Regions from separate parts of the Homo sapiens genome. Here region 2 is linked to region 1. The links come from fine-mapping of genetic effects on gene expression. A gene starts in region 1. The other region holds a variant in brackets. All regions are shown on one strand. Distances are between the middles of the regions.

Region 1 (5,380 bases):
GTGACTTAGAACCTATTCCTGCCACTTTTTTTTAGTTTCCTTGATCTTGCGGGTGGAGGGTAAGTGTGTTACTAAGTATGTTCCTGGACAAGGAGTCCCTCTGAAGATAGAAGTGATGAGAAGATAGAAGAAAAGGTAATAAGGCATTAATGAACTCTAATCACACTAAGATTGATGATCGTCTGGTTCCTGTCTATAGGAATGCTACAGGAACTCTTTTACCCTAAAAGTAAATAATAAAGCACAGTTCCAGTTTCTTTTATGTGGATACAAGGTGGCAGTGACTAGAAAAGATAAGAACAGTGCTGTGCTCTAGCATAAAAACGTAATTATGCTATGCAATATGGTAGCCACTAACCACATGTGACTATCGAGAAGTTACAATGTAATTAGTATGATTAGGTAACTGAATTATTTTTATTATATTTCATCTTAATTAATTTTATTACTTTTAAATAGCCACACATGGCTAGTGCCTTCTGTTTTGAACAGTGTGGGATTCATTGGTATTGATAGGCTGGATATACCTCTAGTTTTTATTTTGATTCAATTTATGGTTAGGTGAGTCTAGAAAGAACAAAAGAGAAAGAGACAATGGAGATTAATCATAATAGCCAGCATTTAATGTGTGCTTATTATATATCCAGGCATTTACCTAAACATGTAAAAGGTATTCTGTATAATCCTTGCAAAAATACTAAGATTATTGCTATTTTACAGATGAAAAAATTGAAGCATAATAAGAATTTTACTTGCCTAGAATCACACGAGTAAATAAGGGGTGAAGATGGCATTCATACACAGGTAGTTTTATTAGAGCCCATTCATTTACACTACATAGATTCAGGAATGAGGTGGCATGGAGTGACTGGGGCCATGGTTCCCAAACTGTGCCAAAGTACAAGCTCACAAGGGTATTGTGGAATATTTTTAATTTTCAGAGGAAACACAGCAATATTTTATATTTCTTAAACACTGTGTGACCTATTAACTTGAGGTGATTCACAGTTGGAACATTAGATTGTGCTACATTCCTTTTGATGACAATATATCTGGCCAGGTGTGGTAGCTCATGCCTATACTCTCAGCACTTTGAGAGGCCGAGGTGGGCAGATCAGTTGAAGTCAGGAGTTCAAGGCCAGCTTGGCCAATATGGCAAAACCCCGTCTCTACTAAAAATACAAAAATTAGCCAGGCATGGTGGCAGGCACCTGTAATCCCAGCTACTCGGGAGGCTGAGGCAAAAGAATGGCTCAAACCCAGGCAGCAGAGATTGCAGTGAGGCAAGATCGTGCTACTGTACTCCAGCCTGGGTTACAGAGTGAAACCCTGTCTCAAAAATATATATATATATAAAGACAACATATCTTTACAAAAGATGGTTTTAGAAGGTCCCTCTGATAAAAATTAAGTATTAAGTAAAAAAAAAAAGTACTGTGTAAAAATCAGCATGGAACAGAAAATGAGGGTGGCAGCATTGGATTCCTGCATGTGAGAAGTTGAGTAGTGCCAAACAGATGTACATATCCCGTAAGTAACTGTTTGTGGTTATTTAAGAACGAAATTTTTTTTTCAATTTGTGTGCATTGTTATTTTCAAAGTGCTAGTAAGTTCTCAGGAACCAGCTACTCACTCTGTTGCCCAGGCTGGAGTGCAATGGTGTGATCTCAGGTCACTGCAACCTCCACCTCCCGGGTTCAAGCCATTCTCCCTGCCTCAGCCTCCCAAGTAGCTGGGATTACAGGCGCCTGCCACCACGCCCAGCTAATTTTTTGTATTTTTAGTACAGATGGGGTTTTGCCTTGTTGGCCAGGCTGGTCTCCGACACCTGACCTCAGGTGATCCACCCACCTCGGCCTCCCAAAGTGCTGGGATTACCGGCGTGAGCCACCGCGCCTGGCCTTTATATATAAATTTTTTTTTAATTTTTTAAATTAAAAATTAAATGTAAATTTAATGTAAAAATGTAAATTAAATGTAAAAATTAAATTGTAAATGTGGGCAGAAGTAATAGTTGTATTCTACCAAAGACACGCTATTTATGTTATATTCTGGTACCCGTGTATTCCGATAACAGAATTTTCTTCGTGGGAGGAGTCCTCTAGTTACCTGAATTGCTTGGATCAATATTGCGCAGATCAAGGGATTATCTGTGTCCCTACCCACCAAATCCATCCTTATCCTTTCTGTCGGCATCTAGGACCCCGGAATTCTTGCCTGAGAACTTTTTCTTCTCCCGGTCTGGGCCTGGATGTGCTCTCCTAAACCCTGTATCCTCCAAGTTAGCACTGTTGCCGGGGGCGACCCAGCTTCCCTTGTCCAGGGAGCAACTCAGACACAGTCTCGCTTCATTTTTATTCTGGGGTTGTACAATCTAAGGTATGAAATTTTTCCTTTTTGAATCTCTCACGGTTTGCTATTGACACAGCTGGAATGAGGTTGCAAGGAGAGGGCTGGGGGCTCTCCTCCCTACTTCTAGCCCTATTTCCGCATAGGCCTTCTTGCTGGGAACTCCTGCCCTGCGGACTGGAATGGGTACCGAGATGAAATGCTGGGTGCGCTCCGGCTCCCCCCGCCCGCCCCGGGGCAGAAGGTTTAGGGCTGGGAAGAACTCTGATTAGGTTTACAGCCCAGGTTCAGCCGATTGAATTAGGGTGTGTCACCATGGAGACAGGGCCGGCCCGCGTGCTCGCTTGCCATTGGCTGGGGACTCCAGGGCAAGGGATATAAGCCAGAGCCTAGACCAGTGAGCCAACTGTGCGAACCAGACCCGGCAGCCTTGCTCAGTTCAGCATAGCGGAGCGGATCCGATCGGATCGGAGCGGATCGGAGCACACCGGAGCAGGCTCATCGAGAAGGCGTCTGCGAGACCATGGAGAACGGGTGAGGAGGGCACCAGGCCCGCAGGACCCTTGGGGAGGGGCAGGTGCTGTGACCCGGGAACCTGGCACACTGGGCCCAGAGGGAGCTGGCGGAGGGAGCGAGCGCCCAGGGGATGCAGAGAGGCCTGGCACTGAGCCTAGTGTCGGGAGCAAGGCGGCAGAGTCATGCGGCAGCCAGCGCGGGCAGGGACGCACGCGGGAATCGAGCTGGGGTGGCGCCACCGGAGCAGGAAGGGGACAGGTCGGTGCGGTCTAAGCTACTCCGTAAAAGCAGCCGTTGTGTGTCTCCGTGTGTGTGTTAGGGGAACAAGTGGAGAGTGAGTATATGTATATATCCCTCACTCCATACCAGGAGGAGGTCTCCTCACCCCCTGCGCTCTTCATAAATTCCCATGCTAGGGTCTGGGTAAAGCTGCGAGGTACTTTTGGTGCTCAAATTCGGAGTTCCTCCTTTAGAGGCAAGATTACTCACCTCCTTTGCCAGTTGCACTCCTCCCTTCCTTCCAGACTGGCAGTATGATTAACTCGGTGGGAAGTGACTGCTAAGTGGAGACGGAAATCAGTCACCGAACTGAGCAACAGTCCTGTGCTCACTTCCCCCACCCCACGCCTTTGAAAACTCTTCTCTCGGCTTGGGTCCTGGATATCCCAGTCCAAGTGACCTGCATTAGGCATCACAGTTGCTTTTGGATGCCCAGGGAGCCAGGGTGTTCTTGAGGGGACTGATAGCCAATGAGGAAGTGCTGTGAGATGTGGCTAGACATGCCATGTGGCGGCAGCTTCACACATTCATTTCCTTTGCACCTTTTGGGGATGCCATTTGATTAACATTTTACCAGCTTAATTGCTTCTCTCCATTGTCCTGTGGCTCCGTTGACCAGCCCCCAACCTACCTGATCCAACTGCTTCCCTGAGGGTAGCCTGGTGTATTGTGCAATCATGTCTGGTTTCCCGGGCTCTGCTTTCCAAGTAAAAAATTTCCTGTGAAAGCTTGGTTAGTTGTGTTCAGCTCTGTCACACCTCATTGCCACCTCTGAAAGCAACGTTTGGTCTTCCCAGATGGATGTGAGAGAACTGGACTTGGAACTGGGAGAAAAGTAACACGGGTTGATTCTTGCTAGTGTAGGGGTTCTGGGTAAGTGCCCTGAGGTTTCTGAAGAGCAAAGATCCTCGGTGGAGAGAAAGGAAACTGGGAGGAGGCAGGGAGGGGGAAGGACAGGAAGAAGACCACAGGCAGGTGGAAAGCAGGAGAAAGATTCAAATACTTTGTGTAACAGAGCCATAGGTCTTTGGAAGTTGTTAGCAAGTATTCAATTCATTTTCAGATTGAGCCTATAAGATAGATGGGGCCAATTTACATCCCTTGTTTATACCTGAGAAAATAATTTAAAGCACAAATTACATGCCTAAAAAGACAATATTGGGACTAGAATCTAGGTCGAATTCTGCTTCCCTCCAGACCAGCAATTCCTAAACCTGGTTTTATTTTATTTTATTTTTATTTATTTATTTTGGAGTCGGAGTCTCGCTCTGTCTCCCAGGCTGGAGTTCAGTGGAGCGATCTTGGCTCACTGCAACCTCTGCCTCCCGGGTTCACACCATTCTACTGCCTCAGCCTCCCGTGTAGCTAGGACTACAGGGGCCCGCCACCACGCCCGGCTAATTTTTTTTTTTTTTTTTTTTTTTTTGTATTTTTAGTAGAGACGGGGTTTCAACATGTTAGCCAGGATGGTCTCGATCTCCTGACCTCGTGATCCGCCCACCTCGGCCTCCCAAAGTGCTGGGGTTACAGGCATGAGCCACCGCGCCCAGCCCCTAAACCTGGTTTTAAAATCAAAATTACATGGGCTTCAGAATCTGTTTTTTGTGGGGGTTTTGTGTGTGTGTGTGTGTGTGTTTTTTATAGGGTCTCACTCTGTCACCAGGCTGGAGTGCCAGAATCTGTTTTTCTAACAAGCTTCTGCTGAGAATTTGTGTAGTCAGTCCTGGTTTAACCTTTGACAACCAGTACTGTGGACTGGGTCTGCTTTTTTGTACAGCAGTTTATCTAGTTTTTTGTCTGGAATTAACCCCCTTGTGATCCAGGGAGCTAAGAATGGCACGTAGACCTCTACCAGGGGTGGTCCCATTGTGTTTTATTGGTTAAAACAAAAAAGAAATGTAGCCCTTAAGTCTTTGGCTGAGGAAGGAACTGGAGGAATGAGGGTTCAAAAGGAAATTTGAGTTTATCTCTGCCTTCATAGTAGTTGGTCTTAATTACATTTTGAATGTCTTTGGGGAACAGGTAAGGTAATAAGGGGGATTTTACTAGGTGGGCACCACCCTCAGGAAGGGCTTAATCCCATTTTGAGTACTCTTCTTGGGCTCCCTCCTGGCCAAGCCCTTTTACCCTCCCTAATTTGATTATTTCCTTGCACTTCCCCGTACACTCTGGCCCCTTCCTCTCTAAACCTTTGTCATAAGGATAAGTATGCAGCTTGCCAGTGTTCAGTGGATCC
Region 2 (5,380 bases), 390 kb after region 1:
GTTCTAAGAGGCACTGTAAATATCTAAGAACCAACTACGGGAAGCAGATTTCCTAAATGTATTTGAATGGGTCCTATGGAAGAATCACTCTTTCTCCTCAACAGAGCATCCAGTAGGATCAGTGTTCCTGTAGTATTGGCCCTCTAGGATACAAGAGGATTAGGGACCCTTAAAAATCACTATCAGGAGAACAAAATGGAAATGAAATGAAGGTCACGGGGGAGACGGCTTTATTTACTTTTACCTCCTCAGAATGGTTTCAGTGTCTATTTTGGTTATTCTTTTTAAAGCCTCATAAGGTGGTAACTATTGACTAATGTTAATCAGTAAATTTACTTGACCCCTTTCTCCCCCTTTACAGCACCTTGCGGGATTAGGGGTCCTACAACATTGTCTTCTAAAGTAAAGAGGAATGAAAGAACTTTGAAATTCACTATTCAGGAGAGGAAAAGAAGCACAAACCAAGTGAGAGAAATGGCTCCATTTTAACTCTCTTAGAAGGTCCTAGTGACTTTTCAGATTGCCCTTTGTAAAGGCATGGTAACTATCGTAGCCATACATTAGTATGAATTAGAATCAAACATTCCATCACACCACCAATTTCCAGAGGATGCATTAGGATACTGAAGATACAAATGCATCTTCCAACACTCCCTCTGTCATGCTCCCACATGACTCTTGGTCCCATGGAAACCCTTGAGATAGGTCACTGAGTAAAGGAAGAAGCCAGTTCTTGGTAGGATTGACTGAACTGGCTAAAGAGCTCATTCCCAAGGTGGATGGTCAGCAGTCCAAAGTAAAATGCCTAGTAGATTGAGGCTAATATCAGAATTCTAGAAGAACCAACCCAGTGGGGGAGTAGGTTTCAAGCACTGGCTAACGCTATAAGTCACGTGGGAGCCAGGGTAATGTTTCAGTGAGCAGTCCATTGACAGAAGTTCTGAAACAGGACCCAGCCCTCAGCAGGAGAGCGCTGGTGAGAGATTTGAATCGCTAGGGTCTGGTCATGGTGTCAGTCCCAGAGGACATCTAGTGTTCAAAGCGGGAAATTCAGACAGACGATCACTGAGATATAGAACAGAGGGTAGTATAACATATAATTGGTAGAACATTCTAATTTACACATTTAATGACTTTTTGCAAACTCAGCATGCTAATGTACTACCTGTCTCTCCATTCATCAATGAAACACTTTCTGAGCATAGACTCTGTGCCAGGCAGACCGCTAGGTACTGGAGATGCAAAACACATAACCTAGTCCCAGGGAGCTTCTAGTCCAGTGGACTCACTAGACAGAGCCTTTCATCTTTCTCCACGCACAGCCAGATTCCAGGCATTAGGGAAGGAAGAGAGTATCTGCCACACTGGAAACTTCATCTTCTCATGTGCTTATTGTTTGTATCCCCTTGTATTCTTCTTTCCTCCTTTCCTTTTCTTGGCTCCTTTTCTTCCTTTCAGATATTTCATATCCCCTAATCTATTTTTTTTTTTTTGAGATGGAGTCTCACTCTGTCACCCAGACTAGAGTGCAGTGGCGCGATCTTGGCTCACTGCAACCTTCGCCTCCCAGGTTTAAGCGATTCTCCTGCCTCAGCCTCCTGAGTAGCTGGGATTACAGGCATGCGCCACCACACCCGGCTAATTTTTTGTATTTTTAGTAGAGATGGGGTTTTGCTATATTGGCCAGGCTGGCCCCTAATCTATTGTATTACATGGCTCACATTTTATTGTAGCACAAGTGTGTTTCTGTCTTCAACAATGTGTACTGACTTGGACATCCCAGAGTCAATAATCTGGAGATACTCTGACTTGTATTATTAGTAGTAGGCCTCACGTATTTTTGTGTTTTTACCTAATAAACTTCCAGCTTATTAGAGAATGCTAATCCAGGAGATCCTGGTTTATGTTAGAGTTTGTAGACCACTACTTCAGAAAAATCAGGAGTGTTTGTGAATTCATGATCACACATAGTAGTGAGAGCAAAAAGACACAGTCTAAGGGCATTTGTTTTTTAAATGATTCTAATAGAAATATTCCACATTTTTATAGAATTATCTTGTTTCCCAACTAACAAAAATCTGTACAACAATAACTTCTAACTTTTGGCAATGAGTAGAAAGGGTGGTTCTCACGAATGCTACCACACAGTGGAAATTTCCCCATCCACATTGAGACTGAGGAAGAGATAATCATCAAAAAAATCAGCCCCTTTCCCAGTTAAGGTTCTCTCTTTCTCTCTCTCTCTCTCTCTCTCTCT[C/CACACACACACACACACA]TCACACACACACACACCACACACACTTCAAAGCCCTTCTTTAAGTTAGGCCAGGAAAGAGCAACTGAGGCGCCCAACATACAGACCCCTTTACCTTTTCAGAGATTGTCTTTGCAAGTCAGGATCTAATACTGGGGTTCAAGGTAAATTTGATATTACACCCACATGGATATAATTTCATATTCTCCCTATTCTGGACCCTGAGATGGAAAGAGCATAGAGACAGGGCCCAGAGATTTTCCAGCAAGAAAATTAAAGAACATATGTGAGGCAGGATAGTTTGCTGAGATACTACTTTTTCTTTCTTCTCTTTGTATTTTCCTCATGCCTCTAGTTCCAAGCAGAGAGCCAGACCCTTTTGCAATTCCTTAGGATATCTGCAGAATGGAAAGGAGGAAGTGTATGAAGCCAAACTTAATCTTACTGTCTTTTGAGAACCCTGAAATTTGGTGAAAATAAATTGCCTCTTGAAAAGTGTGGCAAAGTTGAGATTGGAGAGAGACTGAGGGCGAAGTTGGAGGGGAGGAAAAATGCAGAGGAGAGGCAGCATGGTGAACCTAGGCTGACTCCAGGCACAGAAGATCCGGACCGCCATGAAAACCCCCACGCCCTCAAGAATGAAACAGAAGCAGCTCAGCTAAGGTTTCTGTGCACCTTCTAAACCGAGGAAGGGGAGCCGGGTCAATCAGGCTCAGAGGTAGAGATGCCTAGCTCACTGCTTGCCGGCAGGGGGCGCTCTCCTATTATTGTATTTTCTTTTTTGAGGACATCAAGACTCAGTGTGCAAAAATTCTCATCAAAGATACAAATTCAAATGTGGTTGCTTTTGTAAAAATACCCATCTTCACAACCCCAGACTACTCCTCAACTCGTGCTTGCTGGAGGCTCCACCCTCTGCATTCTCTTCATTACTTCGGGTCTCTTTGACTTGTCTCTTGTAAGGACGAAGGCTTCGCCAGCATCGGCACACATCTGCTGCCTGATCTGGCCATGTGAACCACTGTCCATCCCTCAGAGGCAAATTCCTCCCACAACACCTGACTTACACCAGCCTTTTCTATCCAGAGACCTTGGCACCAGGATTAAAAAGCAAGTATCTCCTTTATTTGCCTCTATTTGGTGGCCGGATGCTAACACAGTACGATTTTCACCTTTTCTCCCTTCTCTTAACTCTCCCATTTAGCTACACAGGTTTGAGGTTAAGCCTAGGATATAGTTGTACACATTAATTATTATTTTACTTGACTTCAAGTAGACTTCTCAGGATATCATTTTGGACTGCTTTCTTGGGATGTTTACTGTGACTCAGAGATGAAAGGTCTTCAGTGACACAGTCCACCTTCCCCCTCCAATGGATACAAAGAATCAGAAGAGTAAAGAGAGAGGTGTTTTTTGCCCCTTTGTCAAGTCTAGAGACAGCAGATTCCCTGGAAACTTCCTAGGTTTGTCTAAGCCTCCCTAGTTTACATTCATCTCTTCTCCTTTAGTCTATAGTGAAGATGGAGATCTCTTGACCTAAATAACATGTTCAAGCATGATCTGTCCCTGTCTTAAAGATTTATTCTTGTTCATTATATTATATCCTACAATCACCCTTGTAAGCATGGTAAGTATGATTTAAAGTCTTCACTTTCTGAGCTTCAGACTAAATAATTCTATTTCTTTCCTCATTTTTCCATAAGCATGGACTTACAAATAATTCAATTCACTTTCTCCATTTTCTCCATCATCATGAACTTACTTAAATCCAGGTGTCCAGTGTGCTGGGTAAGGATGACTGACCAATAAGTATCTTTCCTGTGGGCACTCAGTTCATAGTGTGTGTGTGTGTGTGTGTGTGTGTGTGCACATGTGGTTTGGGAGTGATAGATCTTGTTTTACACACAGAGGTAAGACCCACTTTCCAGCTGGATAGGAAGATGGGGAATAATAAACACAGAAGTCCACCTCATGTCAAATGCAGATCCAGGTGCTAGGGAGACATGGATGAATACGTGTGTCTTTTTCCTGGTGATCTCTTAATTAAATTAAAGCTAAGACTCTGGACACAGCAAACCTAAAGAGGAAATATTCTCCATAGAATAGTGGGCATACTCTGTAGTTACCTCTCTCTATCCCCTAATCCTGTAGAAAAGAAAGTTCATATGCATCAAAAGATGAAAATGCATCAGGTCTGACAATAAGCTTAGCCTTGTTACCTAAAAAAGCTAATGTCATGCTAGCTTTTTCACAGCTATATACACCATGTGATTTTGTATATGTGGCTTTATTTCCCATATAGTCATGGAACTAGTCGGGCAGAGCACCCTGGGTTTGGTTTCTGTCCTGTCATTTGCTTGCAGTGGCAGCTTAACAAATTCCTTTGCCTTTTCTAGTACTGACTGCCTTATTTTTAAGGGCCTTTCTGCAGCTAATACAGGCCATGGTATTGCTTCTTAGTGGCTCAGATGGGACAGGCACTTTGCTTAGGTCCCACAAGACTTTTAATGATATCTGTATCTGTTTTCAGACAACGCCCAAGCTTTCCTCCTAAAACCTAGCTTTGCCTTCTTAAGAATGACAGAAGACAAAGGGAAGAGTCAATAATAATAATTCTTGGAGAAAAATATTGTTTCAAAAGTAGTGGTTTCCTGACTAGTGTGTGTTACCAAGCAGCCTTCTGAAAGACAACAAAGAGGAAATTCTAGTTATCCAGTAGGTGAAGCATTTTTCTTGAGGAGGATGCACTGGGAGAAAGAAGTAGATTCACCCCATAAAAATTAGCCAAGAGTTCTCTGAGCAAATCCTGGAATTCCAAATATTCTTCTATTAGTATCACCTACTACTCAGAAGAGGAGCCCAAAATTCTAGGTGAATGTGCCACCTCCACTATAGTAAGAAGAGGGGATTTGCAGGGCTGGAGAGGACCTCAGAATGTCTGATTTAAGGAGTCAGTATTTTAAATAACATGTTAATTTTTTTTTTTCTGATTAGAGAAGTAACACATTTCAAATACAGAAATGTTAGGAAATTTGGAGGGAAGGTTCCAAGACGGCCGAATAGGAACAGCTCCAGTCTGCAGCTCCCAGTGTGAGCAACGCAGAAGACGGGTGATTTCTGCATTTCCAACTGAGGTACCAGGTT

What was found.
Region 2: its variant is fine-mapped to the expression of PNP in macrophages (Nedelec 2016, PIP 0.95).

The regions. Positions count from the first base shown.
Region 1 is chr14:20,466,653-20,472,032 of GRCh38, forward strand. PNP (purine nucleoside phosphorylase) reads left to right here and starts at 2,754. Exons shown (of 6, transcript NM_000270.4): 1 at 2,754-2,883. The coding sequence starts at 2,873. RefSeq lists enhancers at 2,521-3,025, 3,216-3,285, 3,316-3,445 and a silencer at 2,686-2,805.
Region 2 is chr14:20,854,845-20,860,224 of GRCh38, forward strand. No RefSeq gene overlaps it. Among named protein-coding and RNA genes, the nearest start is that of RNASE3, 34 kb to the right of the region's middle. The variant C/CACACACACACACACACA (reference allele first, on the strand shown) is at 2,258.